Homo sapiens: one gene and its partners. The protein of the gene in region 2 interacts with the protein of the main gene of each other region in a pairwise test. Each region holds a gene or a part of one and is shown on either strand. Other genes may lie near its edges.

Region 1 (7,027 bases), on a different chromosome or scaffold from region 2:
TGAATTCAGGTATGCCTGGCTCCAATCCCTGTGTTCCTTCCTACATTGGAAATGGATGGCAATGAGATGCAGGGAGCAGCCTGCCTGGTATCCATAGCAGAGCCAGGTTAGGATTCTGGGTTAAGTATGTGTTGGGTCCCTGGTGTGATGATAGCACTAAGAGCTAAGATGCAGATTGAAGATGTTGAACCTAAGGTTGGGTCCCAGATATCACTTCACTCCTACAAATCCAAGGCCATGGAGTCATTTAAGAAACAGACCTTGTCTTTAAAGAACTTAGAATTTAGTAAGGAACAGTAGAACTTGTTTGGGTATGGTGTAATTACAACCCCCCAAGTTAATGAGAGTTTTTAGAGGTTTTCCTGAGGTACTGTTCCACTCATCACAGTAGACATGGGTCCACACACTGCCTACCACGGTCTCCAAAGCATGGAGACCCCAGGTTGGCATTGCCTCAGTCCCACATGCTATTGAGAGTTATGTATAAATCTAGATCATGAATACAATAAAACTTCATCATCAGGGACTTGTTATGTAGCTTATTAAACCATGTCATCTACATATACAGTAATGTTTTGTGGAGCAGCCTACATTTAACAGATACCTATTTAGAGTCTACTGTGAGCTACTTACTGGTCTAGGCACCAGGAAGGTAGCAGTGAACAAAATAGACAACTTCTTCTCAAGGGGCTTATACCATAGTGGAAGAGACAGATAATAAACGTATAAATTTGTATCATATGGTGATATGAAGAAAAATAAAGCAGGCTAAGGGTGGGAAAAATAGAGAGTGTGAATGGAGTGGTCAAATAAAGATACTTTGGTAAGGCAGCATTCGAGCAGAGATTATATCTGGGGAAAAGATTACACAGAGCAGGAGCAGAAAGTGCCAAGGCCTATGGTGGGAGCTTTCCCACAGAACATTTTCAGTGTGAGTGAATCAATATTCTCTGATATCATGGTTATAACCGGGTTTGATGTTAATTTATCCATGATTTCTTCCAATTATAGGTGTTTGTATTTGTGCCATAATAATCTAAACTCCTTGTAATTGAAACTCAATTTTATGTTTGTTCTTTTTGTTTTTAAAGTGTGTTTCCAGAACATAATTATAGAATAAGTGATCCCTTTTATTGGCCTTTTTAAGAAAACCTTCTCTAGGTTTTGCTTTGTTTTTGTTTTCTTATTCATGAATTTCTACTTACTAGTTTTCCCTTTTATGGTTTATTCTATCTTGTTCCCATGGGTTGAAAAATGTGCTTCAGTTATTTTCATGATTTCTGGATTTCATGATTTCTTTAAATAATAAAAGCATGTAAGTTTCCTCCTGAGCACAGCTTTGCTGCCTGCCATAGGGTTAGTGTTCTCACCATCATTTTCTAAATAATCTATCATTTCAAATTTGATATCTTCTTTGACTCAAGAGATATTTACAAAATGTAATTTCAAGGGGCATTTAGTTATCTTTTTATTATTACTTTTTAATCTTTCTACTGTCATAGTCATAGGATATGGACTATATGATTTTGACTCTGTCAATTTCACTAAGATTATTCTTGTAGTCTATTGCAGGATCAACTTTTATTAATGTCCTTTGGGTATTTGAAAACACATGTATGTTCTCTTTTGGTTGAGTAAAAAGGCTAAAAAAGTTATATAATCAAACATTTTAATTGTTGTTATTATGTTTAACTTGTGTTTTTCAAGTACAGTTACATTAATTTTTGTTTATTTGATCTGTCAAATTCTAAGGAAGATCTTCACTATAATTGTAGTTTGTCTAGTCCTTCTTGTATTACTAACAATTTTTGGTTTACATATTTCAGTGTTCTGTTGCTTGATGTGTCAAGGTTTATGCGTATATCTTCTCAGCATATTATATGATTAACATTATAAAATATAGCACAAGTATAAACTAATGTTTTCTGTTTTAATTCTACTTTGCCTGATATTAATATTACCATCCCTGCTTTCTTTTTAGTTTACTTTAATCAATAATATCTTTGTTCATCACCTTGTTTTCAACCTTTTTTAGGTCATATCAAGTTTTTCTCCACATATAAATAGCATATGGTTAGATTAACAAATAGAGGCCAGGTGCAGTGGCTGACGCCTGTAATCCCAGCACTTTGGGAAGCCAAGGCAGGTGGATCACCTGAGGTTGGGAGTTCAAGACCAGCCTGACGAACATGGAGAAACCCCGTCTCTACTAAAAATAAAAATTAGCCTGGTGTGGTGGTGCATGCCTGTAATACCAGCTACTCAGGAGGCTGAGGCAGGAGAATCATTTGAACCCGGGAGGCGGAAGTTGCAGTGAGCCGAGATTGTGCCATTCCACTCCAGCCTGGGCAACAAGAACAAAACTCCATCTCAAAACAAAAACAAAAAACAAAACCCAAAAAACAAATAGGAAGCATAGCTGGGGAGACCTCAGGAAACTTACAATCATGGCAGAAGGCGAAGAGGAAGGAGGCATGTTTTATGTGGCCAGAGCAGGAGGGAGAGAGAGAGAAGGGGGGAGTTGCATCTCCTGAGAACTCACTATCACAAGAACAACAAGGGGGAAGTTCGCCCTCATGATTCAGTCACCTCTCACCAGGCCCCTCCTCCAACACTGGGAATTACAATTCGACATGAGATTTGGTTAGGGACACAGAGCCAACCATATCAGCGGGCTTATTGACAGTGGTCTTTACTCCATAGTCATCAGACTAGGCAGTTTCCTTGCAGGACCCCAGGTCACTCTCTTTCAGTCTTTTGTCTCAGGCTAATCAGATTCCAGAGAATTCTAATTTCCTACCTGGAGAGTATACCAGCATTCTGGGAGCTGAAAAGGATGAGGGGGCTGAATTCAGACTTACATTGTTGACCTTAACCCCCCCAGTTTCCAGTACAGTGGTCCTGCCATCTACTGTACCTGGTGTTCCCCAACCCCAGTCCAGAGCCTTTCTGTTTTAGCTTCTCCAGAGAATATGCCTGGATTCGAATGCCAGTGAGGAGATCTAGGAGTCAACCCCTTCTTAGCCATTCCTCCTGTTTTCAGGCTGACACTCACTTGCTACTTCCAGATGTATCTAGTTGGTTTGCTACTTGGCTTTGTCCACTGCTAGTTCCTGTTATTTTTATCCTTCTAGGTTTGACCTTCTAGGTTAAAAATATCCCTTTACTTTGTGTTAGTAGGATTTGGGGAGGGAACAAAATGTGTGTGCATACATCTTCAACCAAATTCTCATTTTTCTCTACTGAATCTTTTACTGTACCTTTTATTCTGTGACTTTTATCTTAGCCATTGATCTCATTCATAGAATCTTGTCAAATGCTTCCTAAACATCTAGGTACTGCTACGTGATCCACCAGATTCTTCTTATCTGCTGTGAAAGTCATTATTTTCAAAGAACCAAGGTAGATGAATATTAAATCATAACTTCTTGCATCTGATTCAAAAGGTCCTTTAAAACTATACTCTTTTTGTGTGCATCTTTCTTAACCCTTAAAGTATTCTTTCCCTCTGAGATATATTAATCATCTTTACTTTACTTACCAGGTTCTTGACTTTATGAATCATAACTTTACTTACCAGGTTCTTGATGAGTTAAACACAGTTTTAATTACAGTTTATAAAATAAAATCTAATTTTTCTGATGTAAGTCAACATATTGGTACCTGAATAAATTATATATTATTTTTGCACATTGAAAATTCTTTTTAAATTTGGTTAATTCCCTTGCTTTCTGGTTAGCCCAGACTGTACCCCCTTACTCTCCCTCTCTTCATACTTTATTCACCTCCCCCCATATACACGTATATTCCTCCCCAGAGTAATCAAACTGGACAAGTTCTTCCAGTTTCTTGTATCTCTGAAGAAGAAACAAAGTAAAGTACATCTGGGTTAAAATCCTGACATGTCAAACTTGACGGTAGACTCTGAAATGTTAGCAGTGCTGAGTGACTGTAGGAATTAAATGCATGTTTTTGAAAGGAAGGAAAGTTATTAGGAAGGAGAGAGAGGGAGGAAGGAAATAAGGAAAGAAAGGGAAGATTTCTACAAGAGACCTAATCAAACTGCTAGTAAGTTTAAGGAAAGATGAAAAAGTACCACTGTGTAGGATAAATTTGCACATACGTTTCACAGGAAAATCTTTACAAAAGATTAGTTACAACATACATTTTCTTAAAAATCTGATATGTGTGAATGTAGATATGTACATCAGGTGCATCCCACCTAACCTGACCTGGTTGTCTATGGTGCTTAGTTGTATGGCACCTTGGAACCACCTGGGACTTTGTGAGCCTCTAATCAGAGCACTGGTGAAACAGAGAAGTGCTAAAAACATGAATATTACAGATATGTGATGAGTGCGTTTGTTCTCTCCCCAAAAGAAAGAAGCAGTCTCATTGGACAGCAGTTAGTATAAAAGTTGTACCCTCCTTGAACTCAAGAAGCAGAAGGAAAAGGAGAAATAGAGACAAAAATAGAAAAGCTGGCAAGAGAAGTAGCAACACAAGTATCAGTGGTAATAAGAACGTTAAGAAGTTGGTCCTATAACACTATAGGCCAGCGTATTCCAGGGGCCCTAGCTCTGTTCAGCAATGTTTTGTCTTCTCTTCTGTCACACCACAGGGACAAGCACAGTGCCTGACATAGGGTAATTATGCAGTCAACTTTTTTTTTTTTTTTTTCCTGAGGCAGGGTCTTGCTCTGTCACCCAGGCTGGAGTACAGTGGTGTGATCTTGGCTTCCTGCAATGTCAGCCTCCTGGGCTCAAGCAATCCTCCACCTCAGCCTCCTGAGTAGCTGGGAGGTACACACCACCAAGACTGGCAATCTTTTTGTTTTGTTTTTTGTAGTGGTAGGGTCTCACTATGTTGCCTAGGTTGGTTTTGAACTCCTGGACTCAAGCAATCCTCCCACTTTGGCCTCCCAAAGTGCTAGAATTACAGGCATGAACCACTGCTCCCAGCTCAGTCAACATTTGTTGAATGAATGAGTGAACTGAAAGAATGACAGCTTATTAAAGGCAATAAACTGTCAAACAACAGGGAAATAAAATATAAATACCAATTTCAAAAGACTAGAGAAGAGTTGAATCAAGAGTTCAGAATTAGATAGAAATGAGGTTGTATAAAAGCAGGGTGTGAAAAAATGAAGAGAATCCAGGACTATTTTCATAGATACACTTGGGGTATTGAGGACTTGCCTTTTTAATTGGAGAATGTATGGGGAATGGTTACATAGGAATGGCTTCAGCCAGGGACAAAACATACCCATGTGCTTTCATGGACTCTCCAAGGGTAACATACTAAGACTCACAGTTTTCACCCTTAAATGTTATTTAAGTTAGGTTGTGTCTTGAAATCAGAAGATACATTTGGCTATTATTCCCTGTTTCCTCTAAAAGCAATTATTAAGTTATTGTTGCTTCTTATAATAGAAAGTGTTATAGAATGACAGAAATATGTTTCACATGTTGCCATATTAAAGCACAAACATATATGGCATAGCCATTTATGGGGAAATCCACTGGCCAACCCATAGTGCCGTGGAGTAACTATACCTATAATCTGTACAAATGCTAGAGTACAAGATGAGCAGCACACAGCTAGGTGCACTATACAATCCATGCAATGAAATGGTTTCCAAATTTTCTCTAAAAAGGAGAAAGGGGAAAATGCAAATACTTTATGCTAATCTTATAAATCTTCAAGTTATACACTACTTAAAATGGTTCAAGAATAGGAAAATAAAAAGATGAATCAACAAAAGAGCTGGCTTATAAAGGACAGCTAGTCAAATTACCCATAGAGGCTATCCATTTATATTAGAAACAGGTGGCATATGAGGCATAATTGGTGCAATGGCCCAGGGACTCAGGAATATCCAAATCTTGCCTCAAATCACCAACAACCCCAAGGGAGACTTACCATAGCAAAGGAACGCAAGACACTTTGAGTGGTAATGATAACGAGGGAACCCACCTTACACAGTGTCGGAGGAGGCCACGTAGGAAAGAGTAATGAGGCATCCCTACCCGTCCCAGCCAAGGTGGTATCAGTGCAGAGCTACTAGGGGCCTGAACTGTCACCCCCACCCAGCAGTAATGAGGAGTTCCTCCCTCCAAGTGGCAACAGAGGCTGAGTCGAGAACCTGAACTTCCACCACTGTCTGGCAGTAATGAGGTGGCATTCTATTCCCCTGCTGGAGTATTGTCAGAAGGGGTCTGCTAAAACACAAAATTCAAATAAAAACCAGAAGCTCGTAATATAATACCCAAGCAAATTAGGGTTCCTATTTTTCTGGAGGTGGGAAATTTAGAGCTGATACTATGGCTCTGCGATGGTATCAGAGACCTCATTGGAGCTTACAGTCTAGTGGAGGGAAACAGATTATAGCAAATAAATAAATCTATATTATGTTGGGGGTGGTAATAATCACTATGTAGAAAAAGTAAGCAGATTATGAGAATAGAGAGTTACAGAGTAAATCTGGTTAGGTGACATTTGAAGAAAGACCTAAAAAAAGTGAGAGATGTAGACATCTGGATATCTGGGGGAATGGCATTCCAGGCAGAGGAATCAGCAAAAGCAAAGCTTCTGCAACAGGAACATGATTGACGTTTTCAAGGAACAGAAAAGAGGCCAGTTAGAGAGGAGGAAGCAAGGGGGAAAGTGGTAGGAGATGACCTCAGAAAGGCAAATAGGGCCAAGTCCTGAAGGGCCTCACAGACCTTAGTCAAGGCTTCAGATTTCACTGTGTAAAATGGGAAGTCACTGGAGGACTCTGAGCAAGGGAGTGACATTTTCTGACTTAATATTTTAAAAGGCTCGCTCTAGTTGCTATGGGAAGAATAGACCATAGGAGGGTAAGGGTTGAAAAGGCAGACAAGCTAAGCTGTGGGAGATGACAGTAGATCAGATTGATAGATGTAGACATAGTGACAAATGGGTTTGTTTTCATGAAATAGCTGACAATGTTATAGATCCTGGATTGGATATGGAGTGTGTGAGAAGATGATGAACAAAGGATGGT
Region 2 (7,027 bases):
AAGTTTGGTAGTACTTTTTGGCCGTTTGATATTTAACTCCGTTTCTTTTTTTTTGAGACGGAGTCTTGCTTTGTCGCCCAGTCCGGAGTGCAGTGACGTGATCTCAGCTCACTGCAAGCTCTGCCTCCTGGGTTCACACCATTCTCTTGCCTCAGCCTCCTGAGTAGCTGGGACTACAGGTGCCCGCCACCACGCCTGGCTAATTTTTTTTTTGTATTTTTAGTAGAGACGGGGTTTCACCGTGTTAGCCAGGATGGTCTTGATCTCCTCACCTCATGATCTGCCCGCCTCAGCCTCCCAAAGTGCTGGGATTACAAGCGTGAGCCACCTCGCCTGGCCCTAACTCTGTTTTTTTCTTTTTTTTTTTTTTTTTTTTTGAGACAGAGTCTCACTCTGTTGCCCAGGCTAGAGTGCAGTGGCACGATCTTGGCTCACTGCAACCTCCACCTCCCGGGTTCAAGTGATTCTCCTGCCTCAGCCTCCCGAGTAGCTGGGACTACAGTCACATGCCACCACACCCAGCTAATTTTTTGTATTTTTAGTAGAGACAGGGTTTCACCATGTTCACCATGTTAGCCAGGATGGTCTTGATCTACTGACCTCATGATCCGCCTGCCTAGGCCTCCCAAAGTGCTGGGATTACAGGCATGAGCCACCGCGCCCGGCCCTTAAACTCCCTGTTTCTAAACAACATGTTTTTGTTGCTGTTTCTTATTTTATCTCTCGTCAGTTTTAGACGTTGTTCAGACGTATATGGCACAGGCAGCTGTACTTCTCCAGTGGCCCCCACACCCTCACATGCCCTCACCTGGCTCCCCCATCTCCTGGCTGTAGGTTGTTAGAATTTGTGGTGAGACCAGTGATGGGACTTCCATTGGGCAGCTGTGTAGGTACTTTAACACTGAGCCATGCCACCTGCTGTGCTTATATGACCTCTTTGGAATAACTTTGTGTATTTCTTAGAGTTACTCATGGCCCTGTTTGTTGGCTTTGTTTTCTGCATTCGACCCTTGTCTCCCCAGCTGGGCTTTTCCTTGTGGTCTGTCAGGCTGTCTACCCTGACAGTTCTGTGTGTGCTTTCTTTCCGCAGAGCCCTCTGTCCTGGAGGCCACAGTCCTGATTGTTTCCATGCCAACTGCACACTTGTTGCCCTGAGGTTTTCCTGGGATCTCCTTTCACCCCTCTTCAGTGTGGGACCCTCTTCCCTGAATCTTAAATGTCTTCTTTTTGCCCTTGCTCTCCTGTTTTGATAGAGCCTTTCCTTTGGTAGGTTCCTGAAAAAAAGGCACATAGGAAGGTAGATTTTCTTGGCCAGGCACGGTGGCTCATGCCTGTAATCCCAGCACTTTGGGAGGCTGAGGTGGGCAGATCACCTGAGGTCAGGAGTTCGAGACCAGCCTGATCGACATGGAGAAACCCCGTCTCTACTAAAAATACAAAATTAGCCGGGTGTGGTGGCGCACGCCTATAATCCCAGCTAATTGGGAGGCTGAGGCAGGAGAATCACTTGAACCTGGAGGCGGAGGTTGCACCTGGAGATCGCACCATTGCACTCCACCCTGGGCAACAAGAGCGAAACTCCATCTCAAAAAAAAAAAAAAAAAAGAAAAAAAGGAAGGTAGATTTTCTTGTAACATTGCATGTCTGAAAATGTGTTTGTTCTAGCCTCATACTCAGCTGATAGTTTGGTTGGGTATAGAATCCTAGGTTGACAATTGTTTTCACTCAGGAAGTTGGCGACATTGCTGCCTTGTCTCCTAGCTTCCACGTTGCTGCAGAAAATCTGGTGCCGTTTGGATTCTTGGTCCTTTATATGTGTGATCTATTTTTTTTTTGTTATTCCTATTCAGAAGCTTTTGAGATGTTTCCTTTATCTCTGAAGTTTTAAATTTCATGATAATGTGTTTTGGTGTGGCAATTTTTTTTTTTTTTTTTTTTGAGATGGAGTTTCACTCTTGTTGCCCAGGCTGGCGTGCGATGGCGCGATCTTGGCTCAACACAACCTCTGCCTCCCAGGTTCAAGTGATTCTCCTGCCTCAGCCTCCCGAGTAGCTGGGATTACAGGCATGCACCATCATGCCCAGCTAATTTTGTATTTTTAATAGAGATGGGGTTTCTCCATGTTGATCAGGTTGGTCTCAAACTCTCAACCTCAGGTGATCTGCCCGCCTTGGCCTCCCAAAGTGCTGGTATTACAGGTGTGAGCCACTGTGCCTGGCCTGAGATTTTTTATTCATTATGCTGGGCACAGGTTTGTTTTTTTTGTTTTGAGATGGAGTTTCGCTCTTGTTGTCCAGGCTGGAGTGCAATGGCACGATCTCAGCTCACCGCAACCTCCGCCTCCCGGGTTCAAGCAATTCTCCTGCCTCAGCCTCCCGAGTAGCTGGGATTACAGGCATGCGCCACCACACCCTGCTAATTTTTTGTATTTTAAGTAGAGACGGGGTTTCTCCATGTTGGTCAGGCTGGTCTTGAACTCCTGACCTCAGGTTCATCCACCCGCCTTGGCCTCCCAAAGTGCTGGGATTACAGACGTGAGTACCACACCCGGCCTGGGCACATGTTTTGCAAGACTGAGATAGCTGTGTTTTTTTCCTTAGGTACAGCATCTTGACTAGGGAATACAGAGAGTTATTTTATTGTGAAATGTAACATATATTCAGGAAATGAATGTGCAACAATTATAGATTGCTTAACAAATATTACCAGGTGAACCTCTCTGTTGTCTGCTACCGAGATGGAGAAATCAAGCCCTTTGGCACCTGAAGGCCTTTGTGACCCTCCTAGTCATGACACCCCTCCCCAACCAAGGGGTGACCATCCTGAGTTTGGTGACAGTCACCTTCCACCTTTAACAGTAGTTTTCTTTTTTTTTTCTGAGACGGAGTCTCGCTTTACCATCAGGCTGGAGTGCAGTGGCACGGTCTCGGCTCACTGCAACCTCTGCCTCCTGGGTGCAAGTGATTCTCCTGCCTCAGCCTCCTGAGTAGCTGGGACCATAGGCACGTAACACCATGCCCAGCTAATTGTTGTATTTTTAGAAGAGACGGGGTTTCACCACATTGGCCAGGATGGTTTCCATCTCTTAACCTCGTGATCCTCCTGCCTTGGCCTCCCAAAGTGCTGGGATCACAGGCGTGAGCCGCCGTGCATGGCCTTCAACAGTTTTCTTTTGTTTTTTTTTTTTGAGATGGAGTCTCACTCTTTCGCCCAGGCCGGACTGCAGTGGCGCTATCTTGGCTTTCTTCAAGCCCCGCCTCCTGGGTTCACGCCATTCTCCTGCCTCAGCCTCCCGAGTAGCTGGGACTATAGGCACCCGCCACCACGCCCGGCTAATTTTTTGTATTTTTAGTAGAGACGGGGTTTCATCAAGTTAGCCAGGATGGTCTCGATCTCCTGACCTCGTGATCTGCCCGCCTCGGCCTCCAAAAGTGCTGGGATTACAGGCGTGAGCCACCACGCCTGGCCTAGTTTTCTTACCCCTCTAAACTGAAGGGTTAAGAGTTGTGTCTGTTTCTGCTCTTCATATTAATGGAATCATCCAGTATGTTTTCTTTTGTTTCTTGCTCTTTTTGCTCCGTGTCACCTTCTCTGGGAATCATCCGTGTTGCTGTGTGTGGCTGTAGTTTGCTCTTTTTGTTGCTGAGTAGCACTCTGTTGTCTGAAGGGACCACAGCTTATTTCTCCATTTTACTGAGGATTGGACATTGGGGTTGTTTTCTGTTTTCTGCTCTTATGAATGTTTCCCGTGTGGATTTCTTTAGGTGACATAAGGTTTGTTTAGGGTATTTAAGAGTAGTGTGTTCTTTCTTGACTGCTCTACCGGAAAAAAAGAAAAGGGAAAAAAGAGTAGTATGCCAGGTCATAGGAAAGGTGGCTACAAGTTATTCATACAGGATGTTTGAGAGTCGAAGAAGGCACTGTGACCACTTGCTGTGTAACATTCAGAGCTGGGACTGTCCTGGGCACGTTGCCGTAAAGTCTGCACATTCACACGATCCCAGACTGTTTGTGCAGAACGGTTCTGCCCACTTGCGCTCCCACCAGCACAGCGTGAGTTCATGTCAGCCTACATCTTTGCCACAACTTGGCGTTGGCTGACTTTAGTTGTTGCCAGTCTGGTGAGCACATCATGGTGTCTTGTGCAGGGCTAGCTTTTCCCCCATTTCTCCATCAGATAAGAAAGCAGAGATTGACATCCTGGCTGCAGAGTACATCTCCACGGTGAAGACGCTGTCTCCAGACCAGCGCGTGGAGCGCCTGCAGAAGATCCAGAACGCCTACAGCAAGTGCAAGGAATACAGTGACGACAAAGTGCAGCTGGCCATGCAGACCTACGAGATGGTGAGGGCGGGGCGGGGGCCATGGCTCTTCCTCTGACCTCTACTCCTGCCTCTCATGCAACAAAATGTAAAAACTGCCCGGAAATGGGCATAGCCAAGTGGAAGGCTGGCTTTGGTAGCTGACGCTGCTGGAGGAAGTGCAGACGGAATACACTTCATGTAGGACCATCCCTGTTTTTTTTTTTTTTTTTTCTGGGCCCTTTTTGTTTGTGTATCTGCTCGGAGGAACCATTTGGGTTTTTTTTGAGACAGTCTCACTTTGTCGTCCACGGTGGAGTACAGTGGTGTGATTTCAGCTCAGTGCAACCTCCGCCTCCTAGGCTCAAGTGATTCTTGTGCCTTAGCCTCCCTAGTAGCTGTGATTACAGGCATGCAGCACCACACCCAGCTAATTTTTATATTTTTAGAAGAGACGGGGTTTCACCCTGTTGGCCATGCTGGTCTCGAACTCCTGACTTCAAGTGATCCACTCGCCTCAGCCTCCCAAAATACTGAGATTACAGGCATGAGCCACCGTGCCCGACCTCCAGGTGGCCATATTTTATTTTATTTATTTATTTTATTTATTTATTTATTTTTGAGACAGAGTCTTGCTCTGTCGCCCAGGCTGGAGTGCAGTGGTGTGATCACGGCTCACTGCAACCTCCACCTCCTGGGTTTAAGCGATTCTCCTGCCTCAGTCTCCCGAGTAGCTGAGATTACAGGCATGCAGTAGCCATACTTTATTATTATTATTATTTTTGAGATGGACTTTTGCTCTTGTTGCCCAGGCTGGAGTGCAATGGTGCTATCTCGGCTCACTGCAACCTGTGCCTCGCAGGTTCAAGCAATTCTCCTGCCTCAGCCTCCTGAGTAGCTAGGATTACAGTCACCCACCACGAAGCCTGGCTAATTTTTGTAGTTTTATTTTTTTATTTTTGTATTATTTATTTAGTTTTTGAGACAGGGCCTCACTGTGTCGCCCAGACTAGGGTGCAGTGGCATGGCTGCAGTTCAGTGCAACCTCCACTTCCCAGGCTCAAGCGATTCTCCTGCCTCAGCCTCCTAAGTAGCTGGGATTACAGGTGTGCACCACTACCAACAGGCTAATTTTTGTTTTTGGTTTTTGGTTTTTTTTTTTGAGACAGAGCTTCGCTCTTGTTGCTCAGGCTGGAGTGCAATGCCACGATCTTGGCTCACTGCAACCTCTGCCTCCTGGGTTCAAGCGATTCTCCGGCTTCAGCCTCCTGAGTAGCTGGGATTACAGGCATGCGCCACCAAGCCCGGCTAATTTTGTATTTTTGGTAGAGATGGGGTTGCTCCATGTTGGTCAGGCTGGTCCTGAACTCCCGACCTCAGGTGATTGACCTGCCTCAGCCTCCCAAAGTGCTGGGATTACAGGTATGAGCCACCGTGCCTGGCCTGTATTTTTAATAGAGATGGGGTTTTGCCATGTTGGCCAGGCTGGTCTTGAATTCCTGACCTCAAATGATCCACCTGCCTCGGTCTCCCAGAGTGCTGGGACTACAGGCGTGAGCCACCGCGCCTGCCCTAATTTTTGTATTTATTTTAGAGATGGGATTTTACCATGTTGGTCAGGCTGGTTTTGAACTCCTGACCTCAGGTGATCAGACTGCCTCGACCTCCCAAAGTGCTGGGATTACAGGTGTGAGCCGCTGCACCTGGCCTCCAGGTAGCCATATTTTAAAGTAGGGTTCAGCGTCAGATATCCCAGGCCTTGTTCACTGCATTTCACAACTCTGCTTCTCATTATTGCCCACACTCATGTCTTTTCCCTAAATGGGATTTATTCCATTGCAATGTCAAAATATGCAGAAAAAGCACAAGACCCTTGCATGGACTTTGAAATAGTGGGCCTTGTTTTAGCAGAGGTTTGTTCATTGGAGACTCAATTAAAGGGCAAGAAGGTGTTTCCTGGTGGATACTTTTGTACATTCGTGATTCTGAGGTGTTTTGGTTTTACTTTAAAATAAGACTTTGGGTATCCTTTTGTAGGTGGATAAACACATTCGAAGGCTTGATGCAGACCTGGCGCGCTTTGAAGCAGATCTGAAGGACAAGATGGAGGGCAGTGATTTTGAAAGCTCCGGAGGGCGAGGGTTAAAAAGCAAGTCTGTTAATTTTTTTTCTTTATTTTATTACTGTTAACTATGGAGTTTTGAAGAGTTTTGTCACGGTAAATCATTAAAGTATGATCACTAGGGTAAGTATCATATTTGGGTAAACCTTGTCTTGCAGGCTGGGTGTGGTGGCTTACGCCTGTAACCCCAGCACTTTGGGAGGCTGAGGCAGGAGGATCACTTGAGGCTAGGAGTTTGAGACCAACCTGGGCAACATAGCGAGACCTCATCTCAACAAAAAATTTAAAAATTAGCCAGGTGTGGTGGTGCACACCTGTGGTCCCAGCTACTCGGGAGGCTGAGGTGGGTGGATTGCTTGAGCCCGGGAGGTCAAGGCTGCGGTGAGCTATGATTGCTCCGCTGCACTCCAGCCAGCCTGGGAGACAGAGCGAGACCCCTTTTTAAAAACAAAACACAAAACTTGCCTTGCTTTAGAGAATTCTATAAAAATAATTTGCATCTTGATTATTTTTCAGAAGGCCGGGGTCAGAAAGAAAAAAGAGGGTCCCGGGGCCGAGGCAGGAGGACATCAGAGGAAGACACACCAAAGAAAAAGAAGCACAA
Region 3 (7,027 bases), on a different chromosome or scaffold from region 2:
GATAAGGAGTTCAGCAAAGCTCAGAAGGTACCTCCCTCCACCCACCCATCCACCTACCCATCCACCCTTGCTTCTACCTATCTGACTCATTCATCCCTCCAGTGAGCACCTACAGTGAACCAGACCTAATGTTGCATGCTGTTTTCACGTAGTCATTTAAAGGATTCTCAATGGAATTCTCTTTAGTTGCTAATTTTACCTAATCCTGCTTAATTTAGTGATTAATTTTAATTTACTTTTAATTCATTTCTAATTTCAGTTACTCATTCTCATTCACTGACTTTTAATTAAATATTCAAATCTATCAGTAAATCTACCTCGAATCTGCCTCCCATCCTCTACTCACACTCCTGCCTTGTGCTCCTACTTCCCATCTCTGTCCTGGTCCAGTTGGGAAAATGAGAGCAAACCCACCTCTCAGATCCTCTAAAGATGAGATAGGATATAACCTATTGTGGCCCCTCAAGACATTCGAGGTGCTCCTTTGTCACTGCTCTGTCCCCATATCTAGCCATACCTAGCACAATGTTAATACATAATATGTGCTCAATAAATATTTGTTGGATGAACGAATACAGTATGCAGAAAATCCGACAGTCAGGAAGCTGCACTTCTCTTTGGTAGGATGCTGATTCCCCTAAGCTGGCAATGCTCTTGGCTGCCCAGTAGGGGAGCGACAGTTTCCACACTGCGTGGGAGGGACCCACAGAGACATGTATGGACAGATGTAGCAATGAAGCCACAGTTTCTGAGTCTGGAGATCCAGCCCATAAATGGTTAAATACCAGGGCATCTCCCTACCTCCCCTGTCCCCCCACCAGCCTCAAGAGCTTCCAAGAAAGGATGATTTATGTGTGCTGGGGCCCCAGGGCAAGACTTGCATTCATTCACTCACTCACACACTCATTCCATCATTCCTTTGGGCTCCAAATTGTCACACATGTTCTGTGGTTGAAGATGCTCCCATCCTGCAACCCCTGTCATCCTTGTCCTCCCAAAACGCTTGGCACAATTGTCTCCATATCCTAGTAAGGCAGTCCATCTCTGTTCACTTTAGCTCTCTTCCCACCCACCCCCACTTTAGGCACTGAGCAAGAGCAAGAAAGCTCAGGTAAGGGGATCCCTTGTGGGTGAGTGTGACTGGGAGATGTCTTGGTGGGCTATTTCTGTATGCTGATATTTCCTTGTACTGGCCTTTCTTTCTTTGTGTGCCTTTACATCTGCTACTACCTCACTGCCATGTGTTGCTGTATCTGTCCTTGTTTCCCTGTATTTGTCCTAACTCTGTGTCTCTTTCCTTCTCTCTCTTTCCATTCTTTTCTCTGAGTCTCTTTCTGTCTCTGTCTGTTTTCCTGTTCCTGTCTCTCTGACTCATTTCTCTTCCCAATCTTCTCTTTGTCTCTCCCCCTCCTGTTCCTGTCTCGGTGATTTCTCTTTTTTCTGCTTTCTCTCTCTAACTCCTTGTTTCTTCCACCCCATTCCTCTCTCTTCCTAACTCATTTCTTTTCCTGACCCCTCCTCTTCTCCCTGTTCTGTTCTCTCCCTGTTGATTTCTGTTTGTTCTTCTCTCCGTCTTTTTCACTCTCTCCCTCCCAATCCCTCTCCCCTTTTCTATCTCTCCCCCTTTCCCCATCTCTACTTCCTCTCTCCCCAATCATTATCTTCCTGTCTTTTCCTCCGCTCTCTTCCTCCCTGTATTCCCTTCTCTCTACCTTCCCATGTCTTTATCTTCCTTTCCCTGTCTCTCATTTTATCCCTCCCCATGTCTCTTTCTCCTATATCACCTCATTCTCTGTACCCTATGTCCTCTCCCACCCATGTCATTTTCTCCCTCTCTCTGTTTCTTTGCCCTACCTCCCTATCCTTTTTGCCCTTGCTGGAGTCCTGGCCCTTGTCTGCCACTGCAGGAAGTCGAGGTATTGCTGAGTGAAAATGAGATGCTGCAGGCAAAGCTGCACAGCCAGGAGGAGGACTTCCGTTTGCAGAACAGCACACTAATGGCCGAGTTCAGCAAGGTGCTGGTGCCTGGGATAGTCAAAGGGGAAATGAGGGGTAGGGGTCATCTGGGCTGAAACCTAACAGCGGCAGAGAGTGATTGGACAGGGTCTGGCCCTGGAGCACTGTCCGTGGTGCTGAAACAGGTCCTGGATTGCTGCTGGGGGGCAGTAATTTGACAGATGGGGCCGCTCACTCTGCTGGGATTAGAAGGCTTTGAGCCCTGAGGTCACCTGGTTCCTGGCCAAGTCACTCCTTTTATTTGAGCTTCAAGTCTCCATGTGTATAATGTGGGGTTGATGCTGTGGTGCTCCAAGGTGTTGGGGGGTTTTAGGCAGAGTTCTTATGCTTAATATAGGATGGAAAAGTGTTCGAGCTTCTTCCCTTTTCTCTTTCTTCTCTTCATCTGACATGAGCCTGGGGTTCTACCTCTTCCAGATAATTCATCCTGGAGCTACTAATTCTATCTCCCCATTGATTTTAGTGTCCTGTCTGTTTCTAAATCTACTGGGCAGTTGGAGACATTGTCTTTTGTTCCCTCATCTATCTTCTGTATCCACAGTTGATAATTGTCTATGTTTTTAGTGTGTTTTAAGGAAAAAAGTCTCATGGCAGCAAATTTTTTTGAGATGGAGTTTCACTCTCATTGTCCAGGCTGGAGTGCAATGGCATGATCTCAGCTCACTGCAACCTCTGCCTCCTGGGTTCAAGCGATTCTCCTGCCTCAGCCTCCCAAGTAGCTGGAAGTACAGGCATATGCCACCATGCCTGGCTAACTTTGTATTTTTAGTAGAGATGAGAGAAAATGACATGGGTGGGAGAGGACATTTAGTAGAGAAAATGACCATGTTGGTCAGGCTGGTCCTGAACTCCCGACTTCAGGTGATCCACCCGTCTTGGCCTCCCAAAGTGTTGGGATTAAAGGCGTGAGCCACCGCGCCCGGCCCAAAAATGGTATTTCTAAGGCTCCATCTGAGAATATAGTGCCTATGACCTTAAAAAAACAAAACCGAAAATAACCTTTAAGCAGGTACAATACCAGGAGAGGCAGTTGAGCAAGTAGTAGGTACCAGCAGGGACTCTGGAACCAGAAGGCCTAGATTAAAATCTTGGCTCTACCTTTTACTAACTGTAACCTTGAGGAAGTTACTTAACTTGCCTGGTTCTTGGTTCCCAAATGTTTAAAATGGAAGTCATGATAATAACAGTACCTGCCTCTTCACAGGGCTTTTGTGAGGATTAAATGAATAAATGTACGTAAATCACTTAAAACAGAGCCTTGCACATAGTATCAGCTATGGAAGCATTAGTTATAATATTATCCTTCTATTAACTCATCTTCCCTCTAAAATATTTGACTTTTTAAAAGTTTTATGGCCGGGCGTGGTGGCTCAGGCCTGTAATCCCAGCACTTTGGGAGGCCAAGGCAGGCAGATCATGAGGTCAGGAGATGGAGACCATCCTGGCTAACGTGGTAAAACCCCGTCTCTACTAAAAATACAAAAAATTAGCCGGGTGTGGTGGCACGTGCCTGTAGTCCCAGCTACTCGGGAGGCTGAGGCAGGAGAATCGCTTGAACCCGGGAGGCGGAGGTTGTAGTGAGCCAAGATTGCACCACTGCACTCCAGCCTGGGCGACAGAGCAAGACTCTGTCTCAATTTAAAAAAAAAAAGTTTTATATCCACCCTGTGGCCCTGCTTTGCCTTAGCCTCTACCACTTATCATCTGCTGTTTCTACAGCCGCCTCCCTGGTCTCTTCACTTCTAGTTTCTTCTACTTAGTTCACACCACAGAGGCTGTTCTGACCTGCAGATCTTATGACATCACTCCTTTACTTAATACATTCCAGTGCCCCAGTCCTGCTCCTAGTTCAGAGCCCCTGGTATTCACATAACTGCTGGCTTCACTGACTGACTCCTCACTGCTTCCTGCCTCCAGCCTCCATGGTATCATGATTCTTGCAGAGTGAGGCAGGGGCAGACATTCTTCCATAAATCCAGCTTGTTTCCCTGCATCTGCCCTGGGCCAGCACTGGGCTAGTCGTAGAGACTTCCTACATAGTCCCCTTCCTCCTCCAACTCCTCCCAGGAACTGGAAGTGCTCTCAGAGAGAGCTACGTTAAACCTGCCACCACCCCTTATTCATCAAGACATTTCAGCTTAATTGTTCCTTCGACAAATAGTTACTGAGTACCCACCACATGCTCTATGTTCTGGAAATACAGTTGTAAGCAGCACAGAATGATCTCCACTCTTGGGTAGCTTACATTCTGGGGGTGGGATGAGGAGAAAGATGATAACAGTAAACAAATAATACTAGTAGTGATAGCTGACATTTATATGGTGCTTACTGTGTGCCAAGTCCTGTTTGAAGTACTCTACATTATTCACTCATTTAATCTTTGAAATAAGCCTATGAGATATTAGTATCCCTATCTGACAGATGAGGAAAACTGAGTTCCAGGGAGATTAAGTAATTTGTCACACAGCTAGTAAATGGCAGAGCAGAAATTCACATTCAAGCAGTCTGGTTTCAGAATCTGTGCTTGTTACAAAAGAAAATTTTGATTAGTACTAGGTAAGAAAGAAATGAACAGTGCTGTGACAGAGAGTACTGGAATTTTCTGTGTTGAGGGATACTACTTTAAAGGCAACATCTGAGCAGAGCACTGAGGGATGCAAAGAAGCCAGTTAGGTGAAGAACTGGATGAGAGGATTGGTGTTCTGGGTAGAAAATATTGCAAGCAGGCCGGGTGCGGTGGCTCATGCCTGTAATCCCAGCACTTTGGGAGGCCGAGGCAGGTGGATCACCTGAGGTCAGGAGTTCAAGACCAGCCTGGCCAACATGGCGAAACCCCGTCTCTAATAAGAATACAAAAATTAGCCGGGCACGGTGGCGCATGCCTGTAGTCCCAGCTACTCAGGAGGCTGAGGCAGGAGAATCACTTGAACCCGGGTGGCGGAGGTTGCAGTGGGCTGAAATCGTGCCACTGTACTCCAGGCTGGGTGACAGAGCGAGACTCCATCTCAAAAAAAAAAAAAAAAAAAAAAGAAAGAAAATATTGCAGGCAATAAAATAAAAATTCTCTGTAGGCCTCGATATTCTCATCTGAAAATGGGGACAAGGAATTTTCTCAGGACTGCTTTGAGAAGTGTACTTCAGCCAGGAGTTGGGCAGGGGGCTGGCTTAGTTGTATTGGCATTGTATACCTCTCCAAGACTAACGGCTGGCAATGCAGGAGCTGTCATCAGTGTTGGCCCTGGAAATGCCCTGCGAGCTCTTTGTGGTGCTTAGGATGAGAGGGAGCTATCTCTGGGCCCAGGATCCAGCCCTCCACAGAAGAGGGGTTGCAGTGAGGCTGTCTGTAGCACTAACAACTTCCAGAGGAGCCTGAGGTCTTGGATTGCATCTCTGAGGTTGGGAGTAGGAAGAGGAAAATGGTTTTTGGTGTCCTCATACTTGGTATGCTCTTGGTATTCTCTGACTCTGCCACTTAAAAGATGTGTGAATTTGAACTTGTTTAACATCTCTGTGCCTCAATGTCCTTATTTGTAAAGTGGGAGGGCACCTATATCATAGGGTCATTATGGGAATTAAGTGAATTGTAAAGTACATGGACAAATGCTATGTAGGTTTCAGCAAATACTGCTCTGATTCTCTGCTTCTCTGCCCCTTCTCTTCCTCTGTTCAGCTCTGCAGCCAGATGGAACAGCTGGAGCAAGAGAACCAGCAACTGAAGGAGGGGGCTGCAGGAGCAGGGGTTGCCCAAGCTGGGCCCCTCGTGGATGGGGAGCTGCTGAGGCTACAGGCTGAAAACACAGCCTTGCAGAAGAACGTGGCAGGTGCATAGAGGCCCTCCTGGGGATGCGGAGACATTGGGGCTTGAGTAGGGCAAGGAAGGCCGTCATCCTCTCAGGGGAAGGAGAAGGGCTTCAGAAATAGGGTTGGCCCATGCCCTGTGTGGCTTTGGACAAGCCATTTCACCTCTCTGAGCCAAAGCCTTATCATCTACACAGTGCATGTAGTGATGTCTGTCACCCAGAAGATTGTAGTAGAGATAAAAGGTGATATCATTCTGCATTAGTTCAGTGTCTGGTACCTAGCAGATGTTACAGATTAGCAGCTTGAATGTCAAAAAGGAGATATTTGCGGCCGGGCGCGGTGGCTCACGCCTGTAATCCCAGCACTTTGGGAGGCTGAGGCGGGCGGATTGCGAGGTCAGCAGATCAAGACCATCCTGGCTAACATGGTGAAACCCCGTCTCTACTAGAAATACAGAAAATTGGCCGGGCACGGTGGCGGGCGCCTGTAGTCCCAGCTACTCTGGAGGCTGAGGCAGGAGAATGGTGTGAACCTGGGAGGTGGAGCTTGCAGTGAGCCGAGATCACACCACTGCACTCCAGCCTGGGCGACAGAGCGAGACTCCATCTCAAAAAAAAAAAGGAGATATTTGCTAAGTGAAAAAGTGAATGGAGTGTTGGGAAGATTCTGAGCCCAGATTGTAAGTGGGGTCTGGGATGAAAGCTGAAAGAAAGCTTGATAGAGTGTGGGAGCATGTGGTGTGTGGAACTTTGGAGAGCAGCTGGGACTTCTGTGGTGATGGATGCTGGTTCCATGACCAGGAGGGAGACTTAGTAGAATGTGAGTAGGAATTAGGAGGCTCTAGGAGGGATTCAGCTGTAAGTCAGTGGTAGCATATGGTGGGCATGGCCTTCAAGGGCTATGGGTGGGGCTTCAAGGATTGAGAATGGGATTTGTGAAACCAGCTTGGGCTAATTTAATAGTAAACAGAATCTTAGTGGTTGATAGGGCTTAAAATATTTGTGAGAGCCTGGGCACAGTGGCTCATACCTTGATTCCAGCACTCTGGGAGGCTGAGGCAGAAGGATCTCTTGAGGCTAGGAGTTTAAGACCAGCCTAGGCAACATAGCAGGAACTTGTGTGTACTAAAAATAAAATAATTAGGCCAGGCACGGTGTTTCACACCTGTAATCCTAGCACTTTGGGAGGCCAAGGTGGGCAGATCGCCTGA

What was found. The genes of interacting proteins can lie anywhere in the genome.
Region 1: the proteins of ING5 (region 2) and DEUP1 interact in binary tests that used the Homo sapiens proteins (3 or more experiments, as listed by UniProt).
Region 3: the proteins of ING5 (region 2) and GRIPAP1 interact in binary tests that used the Homo sapiens proteins (3 or more experiments, as listed by UniProt).

What each region holds. Positions count from the first base shown.
Region 1 is NC_000011.10:93,333,742-93,340,768, forward strand, and holds part of DEUP1 (deuterosome assembly protein 1), read left to right. Parts: intron 1-7,027. UniProt on the Homo sapiens protein: Key structural component of the deuterosome, a structure that promotes de novo centriole amplification in multiciliated cells.
Region 2 is NC_000002.12:241,705,039-241,712,065, forward strand, and holds part of ING5 (inhibitor of growth protein 5), read left to right. Parts: intron 1-4,177; coding exon 4,178-4,344; intron 4,345-6,338; coding exon 6,339-6,450; intron 6,451-6,939; coding exon 6,940-7,027. UniProt on the Homo sapiens protein: Component of the HBO1 complex, which specifically mediates acetylation of histone H3 at 'Lys-14' (H3K14ac) and, to a lower extent, acetylation of histone H4. Component of the MOZ/MORF complex which has a histone H3 acetyltransferase activity.
Region 3 is NC_000023.11:48,992,238-48,999,264, reverse strand, and holds part of GRIPAP1 (GRIP1-associated protein 1), read left to right. Parts: coding exon 1-27; intron 28-1,084; coding exon 1,085-1,111; intron 1,112-1,907; coding exon 1,908-2,015; intron 2,016-5,686; coding exon 5,687-5,837; intron 5,838-7,027. UniProt on the Homo sapiens protein: Regulates the endosomal recycling back to the neuronal plasma membrane, possibly by connecting early and late recycling endosomal domains and promoting segregation of recycling endosomes from early endosomal membranes.